Regions from separate parts of the Homo sapiens genome. Here region 1 is linked to region 2. Evidence: fine-mapped expression QTL. Tissue or cell type: whole blood. Region 2 holds a variant in brackets; the other region holds the start of a gene. All regions are shown on one strand. Distances are between the middles of the regions.

Region 1 (8,106 bases), 61 kb before region 2:
CTGATCTCGAACTCCTGAACTCAAGCAATCCTCCCACTTTGGCCTCCCAAAGTGCTGGGATTAGAGGCATGAACCACCATACTGGCCCAGTAAATCTTTCATCTTTTCTTCCGCTTTATATTGCTTGCTACCATGCTTAACATCAACTTCATTAAAAGTAGATTGTAAGGAAACATTATGTTACCTTCACCTTATGTTTTGCAATCTTACTTTTCCTATATGTTAGTTCCCCTCTACCCTCTTGTTTTTAAATTTTACTTCACTTCCCTTTTTCAAGACTTTGGGGTAGATATATATAGATATAGATATAGATATAGATATAGATATAGATATATTTTAAAGAAAATTATGACAGTTCAATTTGTAAATTCTGTATCAATATTATTTCCCACAAACATGTTCCTTAGACTAGCAGAAGGCAGTTAAGTGCTATAATATATATTATTTCTAAAGAACAATAAAGATATATTCTATTTTAAGCTACATACTAAATTTTATTTTGTAACATTTAACCACAAATTGATTTTAGGGGCTCAACATTTTTTAACCAACCAAATGAGGAAAAGACATCCTCATTTCTTTTTTGAGAACGTCTGCTGCAATGGCCACTCGGGAATATACATAGAAGGCATATATATGGACTTCACCAAAGCATTACACATGGTTCATTTAAAATTTTTTTAATTCACGGAGAAATGGAAAAAAAAGATTTGAGGATATTGTTGAATGATCATAAAAATGGTTCTGTTGAATAGAGGGAAATTTCTGGTAGTGCACTCCAAGGCTTTTGGTCTTGACACTCTTCTCTTTCATGTGTTTAACAATTATTTGGATTAAGCATTGAGAGGGATATTGGATAATTAGCAGTTAATAGGACTGACTTTAGAGTGAGAAAAATCTGCAGATGTGCAAGTCCTTTATATAAAATGGTGTAGTATTTGCATATAACCTGTGCACATCCTCCTGTATACCTTAATCTCTGAATAACTTATAATACATAATACAATGCAAATGCTAGGTACAGAGCTGTTGTACTAATTTGCTTTTTTGTTTGTGGTATTTTTACTGTTCCATTATTTTCGTGTTTTTGTTTGTTTTTCAGACAGGCTCCCACTCTGTTGCCCAGGCAGGAGTGCAGTGGCACAATCTTGGCTCACTACAGCCTTGACTTCCTAGGCTCAAGCAATCCTCCCACCTCAGCCTCCCAAGTAGCTGGGACTAAAGGCACGCACCACCACACCCAGCTAATTTTAGTATTTTTAGTAGAGAGGGGGTTTCGCCATGTTGCCCAGGCTGGTCTCCAACTCCTGGGCTCAAGCAGTCTTCCTGCCTTGGCCTTCAAAAAGTGCTTGGATTGCAGGTATGAGCCACTGTGCCCAACTAAAATTTTAAAATATTTTCAATCTGTAATTAGTTGAATCTGAGAATGGGAAATTCACAGATATGGAGAACTAACTGTGTATCAGGACACAAACTAGCCAAAAGGAGGTTAAGCTCTACTGCTTCTGACTTCTGACCAAAAATTCTCTCAAACTTTTCATTCAGAGGGCCTCCCACTTGCCATGAAACAGAGGTGAGGGTGGAAGGACCACACAATCCAGTATAGTTCTGTAATCACAAGGATCTCACAACTAAAACAATTTTGCAAGTTCATCACTTAGTCTTTATATTACTATCAAAGCTGACTAAGCTTTTTCTGCCGTTAGACTTCTGCTGTTAGACATATTCTTAACGATCTCGAATATTTAATTGAAAACTTTAGTATCCACAATTCTATAACTTTGAGAATTATAAAGAACCTGTCTTTATAAAGGGTTTATTTACCTTCCAATTGTCTTATATACTCATCTACACCCATTTTATTCATTTAAATAGATTAAAATAATCCTTCGCAAAAAAAAAAAAAAAAAAAACAACTCTCATTTGTTTATGTACATCACAGGCATACCATTATATACGGGGATCTAGGATCTGTGCAAACTACAATCCACAGGCTAAATCTGGCCCACCATCATTTTCATAAATCAAGTTTCTTTGAAGCACAACTTCAGTCATTCATGTGCTCACATATTTGTTCAGTACCGTCTTTGGCTGCTTTTGAGCTACAATGGCAAAACTGAGTAGTTGCAACATAACCACTTGGCCTAAAAAGGCCTGAAATATTTACTGTCTACCCCTTTATAGACAGTTTGTTCATCCCTGTAGGTATATACCAGTTAATTCCCTGTGGACATGCGGTGGACACAGGCATTTTTTTGAAGTGTCATTTCAAGAGCATTATAAAAACTAGAAATAATTTTGCTTAAACACACTTTCAAAAGGCAAGGAGAATTGCAGATCAAATGTCTAAGAAAAAAGAAAAGTTTTTTTCCAAATGATTTAACAACCTGCTCATGGCTGTAAACTAACTATACCACAGTGAGGTCTTGCACAAATTGTTTAGCATTTTTTAAAGCATAATAAATATACAGACATCAGTGAAATTATTTTATTTCAGTAACCCCAGAACATCAAGGCTACCAAAGGCCAGTTGGTGCTAACTGCAGAAATCATGTTTTGCCCTTACTTGCTATTTCAGGAACTGATTAACACAAATAGTCTCAAGGTGTTCCTTCTAATTAGAAAATTCATAAGCTTTAGCCAGTGACTATCCACTTGGCTAATGGCGTTATCATTCCATGAGTCCTTGGTTCGAATCTTCGTACATACAGGAGGTTTCCCGCCAAATTTTTTCTCTATACTTGCTAAACAGAAATCCCAAACATAAAATACTCAAGGGCGAAAAGAAAGGGGCAAAGTGATATAGATTTGGATCTAGATCTAAATATAGATCTACAGATCCATCTATCTAAAATGTTTTGGAAGACAATCTGATGTGAAGAAATCTGGAGAATTTTCCCTAAGCGTCTGGGACAAAAATTAAAATCAACTGTATACAAAAAAAAAAAAAAGAAAAACTTAACGTATTCTTATGTAGTGAAATTCAGTAAGAGCCCAAAGTAAGGACCTACACATTCAGTAAAGCCTTTTTATACAGGAACTAAAAGGTTCACCAGGCCATTGTGTTGTTTTAATCACTCCGCCAGCCAACCAGGCAGTGAGAAACCCAGACTCAAGTGTGTTTTCTCTCCTCTCCGGGAAGCTTTATTTCCTTCGGGCAGAGTGGCCTCTGTACCGGTGGTTCAGAGGCATCCATCTTCCTCCCCAAATCCTATTACCAAAATGTCTTTTAAACACTCGGGTAAAAGCGTCTAAATGACTTTCCTACGGCAGGCCCATGTGCATAGATTTACGGGTGACCAGGTGGAACAAAAAGGAATAAAACCGCTTCTCAGAAGACAATTTTCCAACAAGGGACACCAAAAACTGGACAAAAACGTAAAGGCCCACTTAAAAGGCTTCTCCTCTTAGTTTAGGCTGCTCATTTACAAAGAGCAGGTCCACTGGTTCCTGGAGAACGACCTAGAGGAAGAGTCCCGACCCGGGGAAGAGCAGGCGCAGAGCCGACCCGGAGGACCGCCCAAGGGGCGGTCCCGGGAGCAGGGGCGGGAGGGCGAGCGCAGCAGGCGGAGGAGGCCGCGGGCCCCGTGCGCGCACTCACACACGTGGCGGGCAGGGCTGCGCGGCGTTCCGAGGAGCCTCGACCAGAAGCAGCAGGAAAAATGCGCGCAGAGTTGAGATGACCAGCGAGTAGCGGAAAGGGGAAGGGACGGTACGGGGAAAGGCATGCGATGGGAGCGGGCTGGCTTCTAGTTTTCCTTCCTTTCTCCTCCAATAACTCACCAAGGAAATCTCACTGAGAAGACGGGGGAAATGAAAGGAAATGGGGGAGCAGTGTCCACGAGCCGCTAAAGCCTCCACAGGAGACGGAGCACCGTACCTGCAGCTAGCTCCCCGGTCCCGCCCCCGCGCAGTGGACTCTGCGCCTGTGCCTGCGGCGGCCAGCGTGCCTCCGCTCCACGCCCTTCCCCGAGCGGCCTCGCGCAGGGCACGTGACTCTCCTTTCTCACTGTAGCCTATCCGAGCACTCCGATCTCCTCAGGCTCCTCCCCTCCCTCGTCTCCCTGGCGGCGCTGGCCTTGCGTCCTCGTGGTCTCAGCCGCTCGCTCCGCCCACACCGCGATTGGGGCCTGCTCACAAAAACCTTATTGGGTGACGCCTGCGCACCAGCTGCGCTTTGCCGTCTCTACTAGGATTTTTCTTTTTTCCCCAGATACACAGAAATAGAAAAGAGCACAGTTTTTAAGGGGACATCATTTTCACCCCGTTAACTTTCAAAGGCACGTAAAAACAGTGGCTTCCAAATGAGCTTCTCTAGCAGAAGGCGCTGCAGAAAGAGGGAAGAGGGGAGACCTAGTTTGCGGTGCTGCCTGCCACTTCCTCGTTGCCTAGTAACGGTTTCCACGGCAACCGCACAGTCAACGACGCTTAGCAATCCGGAGAGAAATAGGGTGTTTTCTTCCCGAGAGAGGACTGCTAAGAGGGGGTTAAAGGGGGACGATGTGAAGGAGAGAACCTGTGGTCCTTCAGAAGGCGAAGAAGAAAGAAAGGGGAAGCAGTGAAGAAAGGGACGGAGATACTGGGACAGGGAGAAAAAAGTTGTGGAGAGTAGCTTTTAAGGAGTCATTTGGTGGCCATGGATCCAACGTGCTCTTCTGAGTGCATTTATAACCTCATACCCAGTGACTTGAAGGAGCCTCCCCAGCCTCCTAGGTATGTGGATAAGCAAAGACTATCACTTGAAACAAGAATGGGGAATACTCAGTATTAATTAAGCATACATATACTGGAATTTTTAATAATAAATAAAATGTATTTTTGCCTCGATGAAGTAGCCTTGGAGGATAACTTGTTAGAGAAAAGGTCGAAATATCTAGGTATTCAGCATCTCACAGTTTTACAGAGAGGGCAGTCTGGCGCTGTGAGATGACCATTTTATTATATTACACTTAACCTCTTATTAATACGGTATGTGATTATTGTGTAATTTAATTATATGTGATATACAGCATAGTATGAAGTTTCATGTTGAAAAGAAAAAAATCACAATTCTATTATCTTGTTTAAGGATACTTGATGTTTGGTTTCAGGAGTTCGGTGTTGTATTTCTAACTGCACTACTCCCTCTCTAATGGGATAGGATAGGACTTTTCCCCCAAGATTTTTATGAAATATAAATTTACATTTGCTTTTGAGCCTCAGGTTTTTGATCAGTGAAACGAAATATCTACCACTATTAGGCAGTTTCTAAGGACTTTTTCAGATCTAATGGTTTAAATGGAAGGAAGAATTGGTGGATAGATAATGAACCAAAAAATATGTAATTGAGTTGAAATTTTACATAGGTCTTAGAACCTCTTAAATTCTCCAAATCTCAAAAACGTGCAAAGGAAGCACTTCAGTTACTCCCATCTGTAGGGACTTCTTAGAACTTACTTAAATCTGTGGGGAGCAAAGAAAGTAGTGGAGAAAATCTCATTTCTCCTAGGACTTGAAATGTTTCCTGTCTTTTACCATCATCCTTGTCCGTATGCAAGTCAAAACCACATTTGAAAAGGACTGGACTAAAAATCGGGCCTAGCAATTAATTGTCTTTGTGAACTTTAGAATAAAGTTTCATTTGTTTACTGATCTGTGAGATAAATGTACCAGATAATATCCAAGGCCCCTTTTAGATCTAATGGTCAATTATTTTTACTAGTATTAGGGTAATAGCTTCAACAAGTAGGCAGCTTCTTCAATTTTAAGTATCTGGTTTAAATTAGAGCAGTAACTGTATTACATCTCCATTAGCATATCAACATCTAGAGACTGGAAAGAGGAATGTAAAGTAAGTTATGGCACAGTTGCAGAATTTATTTTCAAATTTTCTATTGTTGCACCAACTTTTGGTTTCAAATTCCTGCATATTACATGAGATAAAACTCCTCTATAACAGATTGGTAGATTGTATTTCTATAGAATATTGAATTTGAGAGTTATTTTATTAGGTAGGTATTCTGTTCTTTGGCAAATTAAAAAGCTTTACTGCATCTAGACGATTTTTTTTTTCAAAAAAAATTTATAGGAACAGTCTTTATTCATTTGGCAAGCATTAATGGAGCCCCTATTATGTGTATAATATTGCACTAGTATATCTGTTCTTGGTGCTGTTGGAGTGATAGCACAGACTTCTTGGTTTTACTATGAAGAAATGAGTAGAAGAAAGATTTATGATTAGAGGAAATAGAGGCACCCAAATGTGATGCCAAAAGAATCATTTCTGTTAGGTTAAAGTCAATTTACACTGGCAAGATTCTGACAACTGCCTGGCTTTTGATCTCCCACGCCTCAGAGTTTACCGTCTTTTTGGGGAACTGAAATATGAACACTAAAATTTATCATTGAAAACCATAATGAGAGATGAAGATACTAAATGAGAACTTAGAAGATGAATGTATGTGACCAAAATCGGATGAAAGGCACTTTTCTGCAGTTGAACTATTGGCTGAGACTTAAGTTATGAAAGCCTCAGAGTCAATGGGAAGTCATGATTCAGTTTTCAAAATTTGAGTTACTCATGATGCATAAGATGGTTTCCAAGATTTTCACCAAATCTGTCACCCTTTTTTTTTTAATTACTTTTTTTTCAAGACGGAGTTTCACTCTTTTTGCCCAGGCTGGAGTGCAATGGCGCCATCTTGGCTCACTGCAGCTTCTGCCTCCTGGGTTCAAGCGATTCTCCTGCCTCAGCCTCCCGAGTAGCTGGGATTACAGGTCCCTGCTACCATGCCTGGCTAATTTTGTATTTTTAGTAGGGATGGGGTTTCACCATGGTGGCCAGGCTGGTCTTGACCTCCTGACCTCCAGTAATCCACCCACCTCTGCCTCCCAAAGTGCTATGATTATAGGCGTGAGCCACCACGCCTGGCCTATCACCCTTTATTGATGTCTGCAGTTATTGAATATCTCCAGTCATCCCCTCTTTCCATTTTGTTTAAAGCAATATTCCAGTTATGGTCTGAACAGTCCATGAAACCATTATCTCCTTTCCATAATTCTTGGCACAATATTTTCATCCATTCAGCCTAAGCTTCCATAAGCATTTTGACAGTCATGTCCAACTATTGGCTCACACTAAAATACCCTGTATGGATTTTGACTAAGGTTGGTCTCTCCCATCCTCTAATTATGTAGCTGATTCTTTTTTATCTCAACTCATTAATCTATGGAGATAGTTTTGCATTTGAATCTTTTATACATTCTGTTAACCATTCTTTTTGTGTCATTTGCAAATTTAATAAATATGTCTTTTATATCTCTTATCTATCATAGAACATAGTATATTAGTCTGTTCTCACGCTGCTAATAAAGACATACTCGAGACTGGGTAATTTATATTTCAAAAGAAGTTTAATTGACTCACAGTTTCACATGGCTGAGGAAGCCTTACAATCATGGCAGAAGGCAAAGGCGGAGCAAAGTCACATCTTACATGGTGGCAGGAAAGAGAGTGTGTGCAGGGGAACTCCCCTTTATAAAACCATCAGATCTCATGAGACTTATTCACTATCATGAGAGCAGCACAGGAAAGACCCACTCCCATGATTCAATTACCTATCACCAGATCCCTCCCATGACATATGGGAATTATGGGATCTCATCAATTTAATGTGAGATTTGCGTGGGGATGCAGCCAAACCATATCATTCTACCCCAGCCCCTCCCAGATCTCATGTCCTCACATTTCAAAACCAATCATACCTTCCCAACAGTCCCCCAAAGTCTTAACTCATTTCAGCATTAACTCAGAAGTCCACAGTTCAAAGTCTCATTTGAGACCAGGCAAGTCCCTTCTGCCTACAAGCATATAAAATCAAAAGCAAGTTAGGTACTTCCCAGATACAATGGGGGTCCAGGCATTGGGTAAATATAACCATTCGAAATAGCAGAAATTGGCCAAAACAAAGGGGCTATAGGCCCCTTGCAAGTCCAGATTCTAATAGGGCAGTCATTAAACCTTAAAGTTCCAAAATGATCTCCTTTGACTCCATGTCTCACATCCAGGTCACGCTGATGCAAGAGGTGGGATCCTATGGTCTTGGGCAGCTCTGTCCCTGTGACCTG
Region 2 (8,106 bases):
AATATAAAGTGGATCAAACTCACAATTAGGGAAGTGTTGCTCTATGTAGATCAGTGTCCAATTTCTTTTACTTTCTCCATCTCTCCCACTCTCAAGCCACATCTCTCAACCTCTTTCCCAAGCTCCTCTCACCTTAACTCTAAGATGCAACCCATAACCTGGCAATCACTGGATCATGTCTTGGGATATTGCCAGTGGCTGTTATACATCAGCTCTGATCTGAAGAGAATCCATGTACAGCTAAGAGAATAAACAGCTCCATTCCCATTCTAGCTGATCGTCTCCCCAGGACACCAGGCAAAGTTGCTGCTGACTAAGGAGGCCCCCCTTTTTTTGTTTTTGTTTTTGAAGTGGACATCTTTCCTTTAGAAACTCAGCACTGGCTGAGGCACCAATTAATTTTGCATAAGCTGCTACAGGACCCTCAGATGCTAATCAGTTTGTTCATAACCACAGAGTATTGTTTTAGGGTCATGTACGTAACTTCTGCCTCCAGCCCTGTGGATTTATTTACTGCTTAGTCCCTAGTTCCTGCAGCTGTGTCCTTTCAATGACTGCTTTATGGTGGCCAAGAGAGTTGAGGTCGACTGCCAGGACTCAGAGATCTGGAGGAACACATGGACACATTATTCTTTTGCTCTGAAGCTATCCAATTCCTGTTCCGGTCAGAAGGGGAGATAGTGGGAGGATATCTCTGAAACTGCCCAGCGCTTACTGCTGATATTCCTCAGGTCTGACATTATTGCAAGAGAACAAACTTAGATCTACCCTCTGTGTGTTCTTCAGTGGAAGGTGAATTACTAACGAAAGTGTAATAATACAAAACACAATTGAGTGTAGCCTTGGCTTTATTTGTAAGACCTACTCTGGAGATATTATTTTCTTTACTCCAAGACTACACATTGGATCCAGTCTGCTTCAAACAAGAGACCGGGAAAGACGGGTTACTATGCTAATTGAATACTAATGAGGCCTTTGCTTAAGTTGGGTTTTGTTGCAATTATTTGCCACTACATTTCTTTTGTATTTATGTAGAGGGAAAAATAAACTACTTCAAAGTTAGCAAGAGTCTTACTTAGCCTGAGCACTTGCAGAAAAAATGTCTTGCTACTCTTTCTTTTGTACTTGTAACATTTGTAAAGAGTTTTGTTCGGCACTATGGAAAAGCAAAATATCATCATCATTATTACTGGCCTTTGTCCACAGTGGATTTCATCCAGATTCTAACCAGTGACTCTGTGACTAACAATCTGAGTCACTAAGTTTCAGATGTTTATGGATTTCAACACAATTCCCAGACTGAAAGGTTTTTTTTTTTAATTTACTTTCATGTTTCAAGACTCAGAAAGAATTAACTGCCTTTCTGTATTTCCAGTCTAGTGCAGAAAGAATTAAATGCCTTTCTGTATTTCCAATCTAGTGTCACTGAGTGACGGGCTAGGAACAATTCAGTGGATAGACTGAACTGTTCCTTCAATTACAGATTTGTATTGACAAAAGTCAATTACCAAAATGTCAAAAAAAAATTAGTATATACTTCCAGGACAAAAGCCTCCAGGCTGGCAGAGAATTCAGTGAATTATAAATATTTGTGTTTTCACCATGGTAGTGGCACAGGATGATTACAGAATTTAAAATGCAGAGAATCACGGTGATGGGAAAACTGAATATCCACATGTGGAAGAATGAAACTAGACCCCTCTTTCTCACCATATACAAAAATCAACTCAAGGCCGGATGCAGTGGCTCATGCCTGTAATCCCAGAACTTTGGCAGGCCGAGGCAGGCAGATCACTTGAGGTCAGGAGTTTGAGACCAGCCTGGCCAATGTGGTGAAACCCCATCTCTACTAAAAGCACAAAAATTAGCCGGGCGTGGTGGTGGGCGCCTGTAATCCCAGCTACTTGGGAGGCTGAGGCAGGACAATCACCTGAATCTGAGATGCGGAGGTTGCAGTGAGCCGAGATAAAACCACTGCACTCCAGCCTGGGCAACAGAGCAAGACTCCGTCTCAAAACAAACAAACAAACAAACAAACAAACAAACATCAACTCAAAATAAAGACTGCCATGTAAAACCTGAGATGATGAAACTGCTAGAAAAAAAACATAGTGGAAACACTTCATGACATTGGTCCAGGCAAGGATTTTTTGGATAAGACCTCAACAAAAAGAATGAAATCCTGTCATTTGCAACAACATGGATGAACCTGGAGGACATTATGTTAAGCAAGAAAAGCCAGAAACAAAAGGCAAATACGACATGATCTCACTTATATGTGGAATTTTAAAAAGTTGATCACATAGAAGTAGAGACTAGAATACTGGTTAGCAGAGTCAGGTGAAAGGTGGGGAGGAGTGGCAGGAGTAGGAGAAGTTGGTTAGTAGGTACTAGGTTATAGTTAGATGAGAGGAATAAGTTCTGGTACACTAACGCAGTAGTCTCAACCTTTTTGGCACCAAAGACCTGTTTTGTGCAAGACAATTTTTCCACGGATTTTGAGGGGGGATGGTTTCAGGATGAAACTGTTCCATCTCAGATCATCCGGCATTAGTTAGGTTCACAGAAGGAGCATGCAACCTAGATCCCTCCCATGTGCGGTTCACCATAGGGTTTGTGCTCCTGTGAGAATCGAATGCGGCTGCTGATCTGACAGGGGCAGAGCTCAGGTGGGAATGCTCGCTGACACTCACCTCCTACAGTGCAGCTCAGTTCCTAACAGGCCACAGGCTGGTACCAGTTTGCAGCCCGGTAGTTGGGGACACCTGCTGTATGGCACAGCAGAATGATATATTTAACAATAATGTGTTGTATATTTCAAATCAGCTAGAAGAGACAATTTTGAATGTTCTCACCACAAAGAAAAGAAAAATGCTTGAGATGATGAGTATGCTAATTACCCTGAGTTGATCATTATGCAATGTATACATGTAGTGGAATATCACACTGTACCCCATAGATAATATGTATAACTATTATGTGTCAGTTAAAAATAAAACTAAAAAAAAAAGTAAGTAAACACAATATAAACACCAAAAAAAAAAAATAAATAAAATGCAGAGAAACTACTGCTAAAATGTAATAAAGAGAATGATAGAAAAATACAAGTATATTGACTGGTTATTAACTTTGCAAAGATGCACATCTTTATTCTTATAGCTCTTTCAAAGGTATATTAGAAAATGGACAGTCTGACCAGGGCCTACTTGAGGGTGGAGGGCGGGAGGAGGGT[A/G]AGGATCAAAAAACTATGTATCAGGTGCTATGGTTATTACCTGGGTGATGAAATAATCTGTACACCTAACCCCTGCGACATGCAATTTTCCCAAACAAACCTGCGTGTGTACCCCCAAACCTCAAATAAAAGTTGGAAAGGAAAAAAAAAGAAAAGGAAATGGACAGTCTGAGCTAAAATATCCCTTTTTATGAAAAATCTCATTATTTTAATAATTTTATCATTTTTCTGTATTCATTCTCATACCAGCTCTAGACTATCCCTGGACTATAACTATCCCTGATTGGTCACCTTACGTCAATCTTTTATTATTATTATTATTATTTGTTTGTAGGGACAGGGTCTTGCTCTGTCACCCAGGCTGGAGTGCAGTGGTGCAATTATGACTCAATGCAGCCTCAAACTTCTGGCCTCAAGCAATCTTTCCAGCTCAGCCTCCCCAGTAGCTAGGTCTACAGGTGCCACGCTACCACACCTGGCTAAGTTTTTAATTTTTTATAGTGATGTGGTCTTACAATGTTACCCAGGTTTGGTCTTGAATTCCTGGCCTCAAGTGAGCCTCCTGCTTTGGCCTCCCGAAGTGCTGGTATTACAGGTGTGAGCCATGGTGCCTAGCCCCATCAACCTTAAAAGACAATTCCTTGTCATTTTCACATGGAATAATTTTACAAACATTTGGTCATACATTTTTACAGCATGTCAGGTTAATAATATCTTACAGTTTTATAGCATTTTGCAAAGAATTCTCTTGCATGTTATCTCACATTCATCTCATCATCATATGCAGTAGAGAATAAATGGGTGGCTCCATTTTATGGATGAGAAAATTGATGTATATTACACTGATATAATTGGCTTAGACTCATTGGCTAAAGTAACATGGATTGTTACAGAAAAATAGAGGTCCTAGTCCAAAGCTATTCCACTAGACATGTGATATGGTTTGGCTCTGTGTCCCCACCCAAATCTCATGTTGAATTGTAATTCCCAGTGTTGGGGGAGGGATCTGGTGGGAGGTGATTGGCTCATGGGGGTGGATTTCTCCCATATTGTTCTCGTTATAGTGAGTGAGTTCTCACAAGATCTGATGGTTTAAAAGTATGTGGCACTACACCCTTGCTCTCTCTCTCTCCTGCTCTGCCATGGTAAGACGTGCTTGCTTCCCCTTTGCCTTCTGCCATGATTGTAAATTTCCTGAGGCCTCCCAGCCTTGCTTTCTGTACAGCCTGCAGAACTGTGAGTCAATTAAACCTCTTTTCTTCATAAATTATCCAGGTCTAAGGTAGTTCTTTATACCAATATGAGAACAGACTAATACAACATGTAACAGAAATTTGAGGTTTAAAAAGAATTTTTGCCTCTAAATCCTCATAATGCAAGATTAAGAATAAAGCCTTGGACAGATGAGCTGTTATTTCTGGATACCGGTCTTTGCAAATACTATTTGGGTTATCAAGTATTATTTTGTATTATGTTAATGCTCTCCAAAGTATCGAAGTGTAATCAGACCGCACAAAGTATTATCAAAATATACAAAGATAATAAAATGAATTAGATTTTTAAAAACTATTTACTCATCATTCTGTGCCCTTTATAGGATGACCTATATAAGTCTATGTAGGATGTTCTTGAGCACACATTCATAAGATTCCTGTTGTCTTTCAAGCAAGTTACATTTTTCACTGTGAACTTGTTGGATTTTACGTTTAAACTAATAGCCTTTCTAAGGGAAGAAGATTTATCTACCATTTCCCTTACATCTTCCGCAGTGTCTAGGCTGGAACCAAAGTTGATGCTTTTTGACTTCTGTATGGCAACTACTCCTGTGACATATTTTGAAGTTCCTGGTACCCCCCAATCTGGCCCTGCACCCACACTGAGCCTCATGGCTAAGTTTTGATATCCAAGCAGTAAGATGGTCTAGTGGAATCCCCTAAAGCATGGGTCATGAGCCACCCACATCACACCCATCTGGTGTCTCTCAGCAGGTACAGGATTCTAGGTGCTTCCACAGATCTTCCCCACCCAGTGAAGCTGCATTAACCAGCTCCCCAGGAGAGTCTTGTGAACTCTAAAGTTTGATCATCATCCTAATGATAGCACTTTTCTGCTCCTGGAAATTTTAATGATGTTGCTTGTGAATATGGTTCCTGGGCCTGGTCTTTGAAAATGAAAATAAAAGATGGTGCTTGACTTTGGGGAAAAGAAGTGAGATGCAGACTACAAAAATGGCTCAAAACAACGCCCTCTCACAATTACTAGGAGAAAATGTTTACCCGTGTGCTGAGAAACAACACCCCCCATTTCTGTAAGGCAGTTGCCAAGCAGATGCCTGATTTCAGGGATCTCTGGAGCTGCACCCTCCAAGGCGCTGGCGCTTAGAAACGACATGAAGAGCCAGCCCTGCTGAGCAGGACCAGGGCGCCAAGTCTGAATGACTAATATTTTTCCAACCTAGAACGTCATTAACCGATTGATAACTATTTCCCCTTTAAACTAGGCAAAATCAGCATTCCTCTCCCCTCTGTGTGCCAGAATTCGAAGATGAACAAAAGACGCCTGCATCAGGAAAACTGTGTTAAGTTCTCTTGGATTCAGGGCTTCGACCCGAATTGGGCTGAGTGAATGAAGACGCTGGTGAGATGTCAGGGACCTGGGGAATGAAGACACACCCAGAAAAAGCAGGAACCTACAGGAGTGGACAAAGAACCGGAGCATAGGCATGTGAGAGGGGTTGAAATGAACAACAGACTCATACAAGAAGGATTTCTAATCAGAAAAGAGCGATTGCTTTAGTAAAGCTGCAACCTGGAACAATTACAATCTGACCAGATGTTCTTGCAAAACTGGTAAAGCAGAGAATGTGTAAAAATCTCTCCCCCTCCTCCCCTGAATGCAGTTGACGAAAGGCCGAAAGGCTGGATCCTCAAAGCCCAGATCTGATCACTGCAGATCCGGGCCACCCTAAAAGCAATCGGGTGTAATCTTTCCAGCTCCAGGCCCTGGGATGAGGGAGGTGGGGGAAGGTGGAGAAAGGTGGAGGAAGATGGAGGGAGGTGAGGGGAGGTGGAGGGAGGTGAGGGGAGGTGGAGGGAGATGAGCGGAGGTGGAGAGAGGTGGGTGGCGGCTCCAAGGTTTGAAAACACATCCAGGACACTTCCCATCCTCCAAGAGCACGCTGGCTCACAGGCTCTTTCACGCTTCTGCTTGGGACAATCGCGTGCATGAAATCTGGCAGGGAGGAGTCAAGGAGATTGTTAGCCCGAGGGCTGGGACGGTGGATCTGGGAATCAGGGGCCTGGGGGACACGTTCTCTTCCTGCCGCGGGCTTCCTGCTCCAGAGTCCCCGCGGGGCTTGGCGGCGGGGCCGGGGGCTGCACGCGACCATCCGGCAGGGGGCGGCGGCGACAGCGGCGGCCGCAAGGGACGCGTCCGGGGCCCGCGCTCAGGGGGAGCGGTAGCGGCTTGGCAGCTGCTCCCCGCGCCCCCGCGGCCTAGCCAGGGGAGGGGGCGCAGCGCCGGGGCCATGGATCCGCGTCAGGCCGCTGCTTCCCGCCGGCGGGCCCGGGGCGGGGCGGACCCGTCCCCGTCCCCGTCCCCGTCCCCGTCCCCGTCCCCATCCCCACGTCCCATCCCCCACGCAGCCTTCGCCCTCCCTGCTCCTTCCCGCGCCGTCTTCCCTTCCCGCGTTCCCCGGGAGAAACATGGCCGGGAGCAGCGAGGAGGCGCCAGACTACGGGCGAGGCGTCGTGGTAAATGCAAACTCCCTATTTTGGGGCTCGGCCCGCTCCCCTCCCTCCCTGGCACCCTGCTTGTAGATTAAATGCTTGCCGTGCGTCGGGGGAGAGAGAGGGCCACCGCTTTGTTCTCCCTCCCGGCGGGGATCGCTTCCATCCTCGGACCCGGGCCTCCTCTCCCCGCCCCCAATCTGACGAAACTCTGAGTCCCGTCCCTTCACCCCGAGTTCCCAGCGTCCCCCCGTGTCCTCCGGCCGGTAGCTCGCTCCTGCAGCGTCCCGCCGGCGCCCAGCCGTCCCCATCCCCGCGAGCCACGGGGAGTCGCTTCTGCGAGCCCGGCAGGGCCCCAGAGACCCCCGCGTGCTGCTCTGGAGGCCTCCTTCTTCCTGGGTCTCCTCTTGACTCCTCCAGGGCGGGCTTCAAGTTTTGTTTTTAAAAAGCACACTGAGGGGTTTTGAAGGCAGCTAGGAAATAAAGTAGCTCAAGTGGACAGAGCTTGAGATTTGAAGCCTTTGGTACCCAGGTTGGGGGCTCTCTGGCAGTGGAGGCCTCTGCAGGAGCTCTAGGACACGCTGGCGGCTCCTGAGTGACCTATGGCTTGTCTGTAAAAGGGAGCAACAGCAAGCTGGGCTCTGGAGCCAATTGGGAGGATGCATGTAAAATATCTAGCAGTGTGTCCGGATGGGAGGGTGTGGGGTGCTGGTTTCCCAGAACTGAGCCTCATTAACCCTGAGAATCCTGACGGTGTCAGCCAGAGGGTACCCATCTCTCAGTGTGCTAGGATCCAACCCGTTCTTGACCTTGTGGCCACGTCCTCCCTGCTCCCTGAGAAGTGGTTTTCCTAGAAGGTGGTGGTTATAACTTGTGTCAGGTTCAGTGTGAAACTCAATGGTGGTGAGGATGGTGGGTGGGGCTAACTTGCCATCTCTTTCCAGGGATCAGCTTGTCATTCACAGATAATCTGTTTATGAATATGAATGGCCTGAACTAAAGTAAGTGGGCTGGGGAGGGAAACGTGTCACATTCAGACAGAAGGGTCAGGTTGAAATGTGGGGCTCAGTGCTTAATTTAACAGCAGGACCTTTCCTTCTGAAAGGATGAGGAGTTGATTTATTCATTCCACACGTTTATTGTCCT

The links. PIP is the estimated chance that this variant, and not a neighbour inherited with it, causes the effect.
Region 1: THNSL1 starts here. The variant in region 2 is fine-mapped to the expression of THNSL1 in whole blood (TOPMed, PIP above 0.99).

The regions. Positions count from the first base shown.
Region 1 is chr10:25,012,467-25,020,572 of GRCh38, reverse strand. It overlaps THNSL1 (threonine synthase like 1), which reads right to left and starts at 3,961. Exons shown (of 3, transcript NM_024838.5): 1 at 3,881-3,961. It overlaps ENKUR (enkurin, TRPC channel interacting protein), which reads left to right and starts at 4,415. Exons shown (of 6, transcript NM_145010.4): 1 at 4,415-4,713. The coding sequence starts at 4,637. RefSeq lists enhancers at 3,240-3,319, 3,919-4,213, 3,524-4,286 and silencers at 3,570-3,649, 3,830-4,029, 4,360-4,409.
Region 2 is chr10:24,951,406-24,959,511 of GRCh38, reverse strand. It overlaps PRTFDC1 (phosphoribosyl transferase domain containing 1), which reads left to right and starts at 6,906. Exons shown (of 9, transcript NM_020200.7): 1 at 6,906-6,984. The coding sequence starts at 6,937. It also overlaps a transcript of THNSL1 not described here. RefSeq lists a silencer at 6,556-6,745. The variant A/G (reference allele first, on the strand shown) is at 3,233.